Homo sapiens: one gene and its partner. Changing the gene in region 2 together with the main gene of any one other region gives a genetic interaction. Each region holds a gene or a part of one and is shown on either strand. Other genes may lie near its edges.

Region 1 (3,748 bases), on a different chromosome or scaffold from region 2:
TTTTACAAACAAGCATCTATCCCAGTGTGGGGGATGAGGATGGGAGAGGAAAGCGGGGCAGGAAGATGAGGATTCTCATCTATTGATAATAAAGCTCCAGGTTCATCCCATCGTGGATTTCATCTGAAGGAAAGGTGTTAAGGAATCCTGACTCTGACTTCCGTCCCCACCCCTCTCATCCATTCACAGCCGGGTCAGGTGGCCTGAGGTCTCAGCCCAGGGCTAAGGAAGCCCATTTTGGACCAGGCCATTTTTATTTGGAGAGAACCAAAACTTTACAAAAGAATTTCTGGCTGGGTGCAGTGGCTCACACCTGTAATCCCAGCACTTTGAGAGGACGAAGCAGGTGGCTCACTTGACGTCAGGAGTTTGAGACCAGCCTGGCCAACACGATGAAACCCTGTCTCTACTAAAAATACAAAAAGTTAGCTGGGTGTGGTGGTGGGCACCTGTAATCCCAGCTACTTGGAAGGCTGAGACAGGAAAATCGCTTAAACCTGGGAGGTAGAGGCTGCAGTGAGCCAAGATTGTACCACTGCACTCCAGCCTGGGCAACAAGAGCAAAACTCCATCTCAAAAAAAAAAAAAAAAGTTTCTGTTCCTTCTAGGCCAGGCACAGTGGCTCACGGCTATAATCCCAGCACTTTGGGAGGCCGAGGCGGGAGGATCACTTGAGGCCAGGAGTTTGAGACTAGCCTGGCATACATGGTGGAACCTCATCTCTACTAAAAATACAAAAACTAGCAGGGAGTGGTGGCACACACCTGTAATCCCAGCTACTTGGGAAGCTGAGGCAGAATTGCTTGAACCCGGGAGGTGGAGGTTGCAGTGGGTCAAGATCGTGCCACTGCACTCCAGCCTGGGCGACAGAGCCAGACTGTCTCAAAAAAATAAATAAATAAAATAAAAATTGTAAAAAGTTTCTGCTCCTTTTGCACAATAGATATGCCTGAGTCTCACCCCACCCTGACCTACTGTCCAGCACTCAGGTGGAGGTCAGTAATAAATATTTTGAACTTGAAGTCAAACTATTTCACCAACCACTCTCCTCCCCAACCAAATAATTACCTAGCTCCCATTTTCTAAGTGCTCACCATGTGCCACGTATTAAGTTAAACACTTAATATGCATAAGCTCATGCAGACTTTAGTTTTGAACAGATAACCGAGGCTGGGTATGTAGATGCTTCCTCAAAAAGTCACACAAAGGATACAGTCCCCCAGAGACACGTGGTCCTTAAAAATCGTGTACCTAAGAAAAAGAGACATTTCAGAGATAAGGCTAAGGAGGCTCTTCAGTCTGTAGGCCAAATGAGGTAGCCAAGCCTAAGCAAAGGGCTGCCTGCAGCGCTCCCCCAACCAAAACCTTCCGGCCTAGTCCAGTCCACCCAGTGGCTCTACCGCTGCACTCACCACTTCTTCAGGACAATCTTGTTCCAACGGGTACCAGTTTGGGCTGCAATCAGCTTCTTAAGGTCCCCGATGGTATCATCCGTGCTGGGCGCAGAGCAGTTAAGGCAAATGGAAGCGGTAGAACGAGGAAGAGGACATTCTAGGGCAGAATACCATCTGCCAGGACCCCATCCGCCCCCTCTCCCGGGTTTAACTAAAACCATCCGACAACACAGATTGAGTTGCCTGCCTCACGCCAAGCACCCCTGCGGGTACCACTGCCTCTCGGCTGCCAGTGGATACTTGCATTTAACGCGGACCTTCTTCCCCAGACGGTCGTTGCAAACAACCTCGATCATCCTAGCTGGAGCTACACAAAGCGGGGGGTGGGTGGGAGGCAGCAAAGTCAGAGCTTCAGGCGTCTCCCAGGCCCAGAAGCCCCAGCCTACAAGTCTCCCAGTCCCAGGCCCTAAAATTCCAGGTTACTGAGCCTTCCGTTCTGCCCCCAACCCCCCGGACTCGAATACTCCCAGGCCCCAAGTCCCCTGTCCCAGGGCCGCGAACCCCGGGGAGCCGCGCCTCCGCCCCTTCTCGCCGCCTGAAAGCCCTGCCACAAAACTCCCTGGCCTCACCTCCCACCGACCCCAGACCCTGGGTGGCTGGGTCGCGACAGCTTTCTCCGACTCCGAGCCTCTCCGCTTGACCCCCTCACCTCGAATCGCCTCGAACCTGCCGACGCCACCAGCTCCTCACCCGAGCGCTGAACCCCGGTCGCAGTTAACGCTAGGAACCGGAAGCGGAAGTTAAAGTTCGAGGCCGGAAGCCCTGCCCCTAGCCAGGGGGTGTGGTCAACACTGGGACAAGTTCTTCCGGGTCTGCAGTCTGTGGTGTGTTTGCTGTTCCCAGGTACGGTTTCGGTGTCCCAAGGCTTGACAGGTGTCGCGCCTGTGGTAGGCGCGCCGGGTAGAGAGGGGGGCCTCGGCGGGTTTGTGGCCAGGGAAGGGGCGTGGAGCGAGAGTCAGAGGTCAGGCGCCGGCGCCCAGCTCGTTTGAAGTCATTGTTTGTTGCAGGGAGACTCGGTCACATGGTGGGGACGCCAGAGGGTCCCGGGAGTAGGGGTAAGCTCCTGATCCTGAGCCCGAAGCCTCTTGCAGCGGCAACTAGGAGCAAGGGCGGAGGGTGGGGGTGGGGGACGAGTTCTGCAGTCATCCCTTCTGACCCCCTGGGTTCATTCAGGGCTGGGCTTGGTGAGCATTTGGCTCACCTCTTCCCTCTGGCCATCGCGTTCCCCCGGGATACGGACTCCAGTCAGTAGGCGAAGCTTGATCCTAGAGTAGACTCTACGCTGCCCAACAGCTGCTGTTACCGCATGGTGCCGGACAGTTCCAGGCTCTTGGTGTCCTGAAGAAAGATTTGGACCAGACACACAGAGATGGCAAAGCTGCAAGTTTATTAAGCACAGTATTCCACTCTCGGAGTGGGGAGAGCGGACTGACCTCTGCGAGATAAGATCAGCCCCAGCTTGGTATAGTTTGGGTCTTTTTTTTTTTTTTTTTCTGAGACGTAGTCTCGCTCTGTTGCACAGGCTGGAGTGCAATGGCGCGGTGCCGGCTCACCGCAACCTCCGCCTTCCGGGTTCAAGCGATTCTCCTGCCTCAGCCTCCCGAGTAAGTAGCTGGGATTACAGGCGCCCGCCACCACGCCCGGCTAATTTTTGTACTTTTAGTAGAGATGGGGTTTCACCTTATTGGCCAGGCTTTTTTTCTCTTCCCAAGGCTGCCTAATATCTAGCCAGTGTCTACCTTTTTGAATGATAGGTGTGTTGCTTACTTTGGCCCCTGTGTGCTTGAGAGCCGCCTCCATTCATGATATGCCGTCCATATGCATGAGCGCTAATGAGCTGGTTATCCTTATCATGTTAAGGATACTTTTTGTCTTTAATGCGCGTGCTTATGCCTAAAGAGCTGCTCCTTACTGGTTTGGTCCTGATTTCCCCGGCCGTGGGATTTTTACTGTTTTTTTTTTAATTTTATTTATTTATTTATTTATTTATTTATGGAGTCTCGCTCTGTCGCCCAGGCTGGAGTGCAGTGGCGTGATCTGGGCTCACGGCAAGCTCCGCCTCCCGGGTTCACGCCGTTGTCCTGCCTCAGCCGCCTCCCGAGTAACAGGGACTACAGGCGCCCCCCACCACCCTCGGCTAATTTTTTTGTATTTTTAGTAGAGACGGGGTTTCACTGTGTTAGCCAGGATGGTCTCGATCTCCTGACCTCGTGATCCGCCTGCCTCAGCCTCCCAAAGTGTTGGGTGTGAGCCACTGTGCCCGGCCTTTACTCAGTTTTTAATCTTCCTTTTGT
Region 2 (3,648 bases):
AACCCGAGAGGCGGAGGTTGCAGTGAGCCAAGATAGCGCCATCGCACTCCAGCCTGGGGGGACAAGAGCGAGACTTCATCTCAAAAAAAAAAAAGAAAAAAAAGAAATGTCAGTTGGAACAACAAACACAAGCAGAATAGCATTCGCAGAGCCTTGTACAGTGGTTTGACGGACAGTAGGTGCTCAATATGTTGATAATAAACGAATCTCATTCCAGTTCTGCCACTAGCTGACCTTGGACAGTCATTTAACCTCTTTGAGCTTCTTATATAAAATGAGAGCTGAGTTAAAATTCATTTTAGTTCAAAAAAAGTTTGATGGGCCAGAAGCGATGGCTCACGCTTGCAATCCCAGCACTTTGGGAGGCCTAGATAGGCAGATCACTTGAGGTCAGGAGTTTGAGACTAGCCTGGCCAACACGGTGAAAACCTGTCCCTACAAAAATACAAAAATTACCTGGGCATGATGGCAGGTGCCTATAATCCCAGCTACTGGGGAGGCTGAGGTGGGAGAATCACTTGAATCCGGGAAGCGGAGGTTGCAGTGAGGCAAGACTGCGCCACTGTACTACAGCCTGGGCAACACAGCGAGACTGTGTCTCAAAAAAAAAAGTTTGATGATTTTAATATACATTTATACATTTTTAGGAGCTGACCTGGAAACAGTTTTTATGCTGTCTATGCCTTTTTTTTTTTTTTTTTTTGAGATGGCATCTTGCTTTGTTGCCCAGGCTGGAGTGCAGTGGTGCGATCTCGGCTCACTGCAACCTCTGTCTCCTGGGTTCAAGTGATTCTCCTGCCTCAACCTCCGTAGTAGGTGGGATTTAGAGGCACCCGCCACCATGCCCAGCTAATTTTTTGTATTTTTAATAGAGATGGGGTTTCACCATGTTGGCCAGGCTGGTCTTGAACTCCTGACCTCAGGTGATCCAACTGCCTTGGCCTCCCAAAGTGCTGGGATTACAGGCATGAGCCACTGCACAGGTCCTTTACGCTGTTTTTTAATGGAAATTTAACCTAAACTTAACTTGTCAACAACGCCTGAGGAGAAATGTGGGCAAAGCAGGAAGGACAGCCAAATTAGAATTAACCCTGAGGATCAAGGGAATGACAATAACAGCTGGCTCATCGTCTCATCCAAGAGTGAGAAAAAGAGTGAAAAAATGCTCAACATTTTTAGTAAAACTATGCAAGGCCCAGTACATTGTACTGTTTCACATACCTTAACCTTCAAAGGACAAATTTGCCTTAAGAATTCAGTACAGCCAAGTTTTGTCTGTGTTTACTTCCTTTCAAAATAGGAGATTTTTATAACCTCTCATTATTGCTAAACTTTGCCAAGACGTCAAGAACTAAGGTTTCTTTTCAATTACAGTATACTGCCACCCTTATCCTAATGCTGATAGAGTGCTCCCACTTCTCCACCCCACCTCTTCCCTGCCACCCTCAATATTAGCTCTTCAGTCTTTTAATTAATTGCACCTTTTTCACTTATTATAAATCTCAAATCCCTTACAGAAGACAGAACAAAATATATCGTTTTAGGAGAGAATACTAGATGCTATATTTACAAATTAACATTTTTAAAATACAACCAGTTTTGTGGTTTAAAATCTATCAACACAGCCGGGCACGGTGGCTCATGCCTGTAATCCCAGCACTTTGGGAGGTGAGGCGGGCAGATCACGAGGTCAGGAGATGGAGACCATCCTGGCTAACACAGTGAAACCCTGTCTCTACTAAAAATACAAAAATTAGCCAGGCGTGGTGGCGGGCGCCTGTAGTCCCAGCTACTCGGGAGGCTGAGGCAGGAAAATGGCATGAACCTGGGAGGCGGAGCCAGCATGGGCGACAGCGAGACTCCTTCTCAAAAAAAAAAATCTATCAATACAAGTTGATACTGGCCCCAAACTAATCTCAATTTGGAATCAAGTTCAATTCTTTAAATGTCTCCACTCAATACCCCCTTAATCTTTCTGAACTAGTTTTGGCAGAGAGTCTACCATTGGTAACTAATCCTCATTTTAAATACTCATCTCATTTTCATTATCAATAACCATCCAAATCCTCCACAGTAATAGAAATGAGATACTTTGTGATCCTAACACAACAAAAAGAGATATTTCTTATTGGAATTGGGGTTATAAACTTATGACTGTTCCCAAAACGTACCCTGCGCAACAGTCTATAAATGTTAACATCCAAGTTGTTTATTTCAACCTCCAACTGGTTTCTTTAAAGTTCTTAAATGTCTTTTACAAAACTATCAATGGTCCCCATGTATCATAAGTGCAGAAAGAAAACACAATATATATTTTAGAATTTAAATCATTTAAATAAATTGGTTGCACAAAGCTCTCTTGGCGGAGAATAAAGAAAATCAAAACTTACCTGAAGTTATTAATTTATTACAGCTACTTATGCTTGCATCATCTTCTACAATTCGGTTTGTGCTCTTTTCTTTCCCAAGTAAAGTGTCCTCCAAAGGGAAGCATTTATCAGAAACGACAGTGTCTTCAACGACCACATGACTAATTTTGCTATTAGCTTCAAGTACTGAAGTGACCTCTTCCAACTGAGCAGCTTCACTAGATTCTGAATAAGAGGAACACTTAACCTGGGCTAAATTCTTTGAAGAAACTGGTAGAGACTCATCATCACTATCAAATCCAAAAGGATCTCCAGTACTTTCTTCTTCCACTTTAGGTTTCTTCGGAATTTCTTGGATATCTGGTTTGAAATTGGGCCTCTTCTGCCCTAATTTAGCCATAAATGTGGTCTCTCCCCATTTTGTGCTAAGGGTAGTCCGTTTGTTGGAAAAGACTTCATCGAATTTTGAACTGCCATTTCCACCTTTCCTACTGTATGTTTTCCCAAATCTGGATGTCATTTTGACACCAGTTTCATATTCTCTGTGAAAAAAAATTTAAGAAAACATATAATCATCAAATACAAGTGTTAAACAGTGCATATAAAAATAAAAACCTAGGGATTCTTCCCTCATGACTTTTGACACTCACCACACAGACTTTTAAATAAACAAATATGAGGAAGGGGTATAAAGAAAGGCTGATTTATTACCCTACATGCTTCCATGTCAATTTTCCTCCACAATGAGTACATATTCCTACGCTACTTACAAAGTAAAAAAACTTAATGATTAACCAACTTATAATACGATATCCATAAAGCTAACTTAAAATGAAGCATATTAAGTTCCAAATGAATTAATTTACTATTCTTATAAACATCATTTTTACCTTAAAAAATTATCTGTATAGAGGCTGGGAGGCCGAGGCAGGCAGCTCACTTGAGGCCAGGAGTTTGAGACCAGCCTGCCCAACACGGTGAAACCCCATCTCTACTAAAAATACAAAAATTAGCTGGGAGTGGTGGCACGCACCTGTAATCCCAGCTACTTGAGAAGCTGGAGCAGAAGAACCGCTTGAACTCAGGAGATGGAGGTTGCAGTGATATAATGATAACCTGTATAGGGTAATTACTTATATAAAATCTTAAGCACAGAATGTTAGTTTTTTTCAGGGCCTCAGAAATATCCAATACTTGATTAAATTTAGTTCTTTGAAATTTCATGGCACTAATTCACATGAGAAAAAAGGTCCCCAAAATGGTGCTTTTTCTCATGTTT

The links. A genetic interaction does not mean that the proteins touch.
Region 1: changes in WAPL (region 2) and UBL5 are lethal when combined (synthetic lethality), as found in Homo sapiens cells (one study listed by BioGRID).

The regions. Positions count from the first base shown.
Region 1 is NC_000019.10:9,826,340-9,830,087, reverse strand, and holds the start of UBL5 (ubiquitin-like protein 5), read right to left. Parts: upstream 2,171-3,748; 5' UTR 2,104-2,170; exon of another isoform or gene 2,024-2,103; intron 1,762-2,023; 5' UTR 1,751-1,761; coding exon 1,695-1,750; intron 1,497-1,694; coding exon 1,413-1,496; intron 1,252-1,412; coding exon 1,214-1,251; intron 124-1,213; coding exon 80-123; 3' UTR 1-79. UniProt on the Homo sapiens protein: Ubiquitin-like protein that plays a role in cell proliferation and sister chromatid cohesion by associating with spliceosomal proteins. Participates thereby in pre-mRNA splicing by maintaining spliceosome integrity.
Region 2 is NC_000010.11:86,515,181-86,518,828, forward strand, and holds part of WAPL (wings apart-like protein homolog), read right to left. Parts: intron 2,912-3,648; 5' UTR 2,890-2,911; coding exon 2,391-2,889; intron 1-2,390. UniProt on the Homo sapiens protein: Regulator of sister chromatid cohesion in mitosis which negatively regulates cohesin association with chromatin. Involved in both sister chromatid cohesion during interphase and sister-chromatid resolution during early stages of mitosis.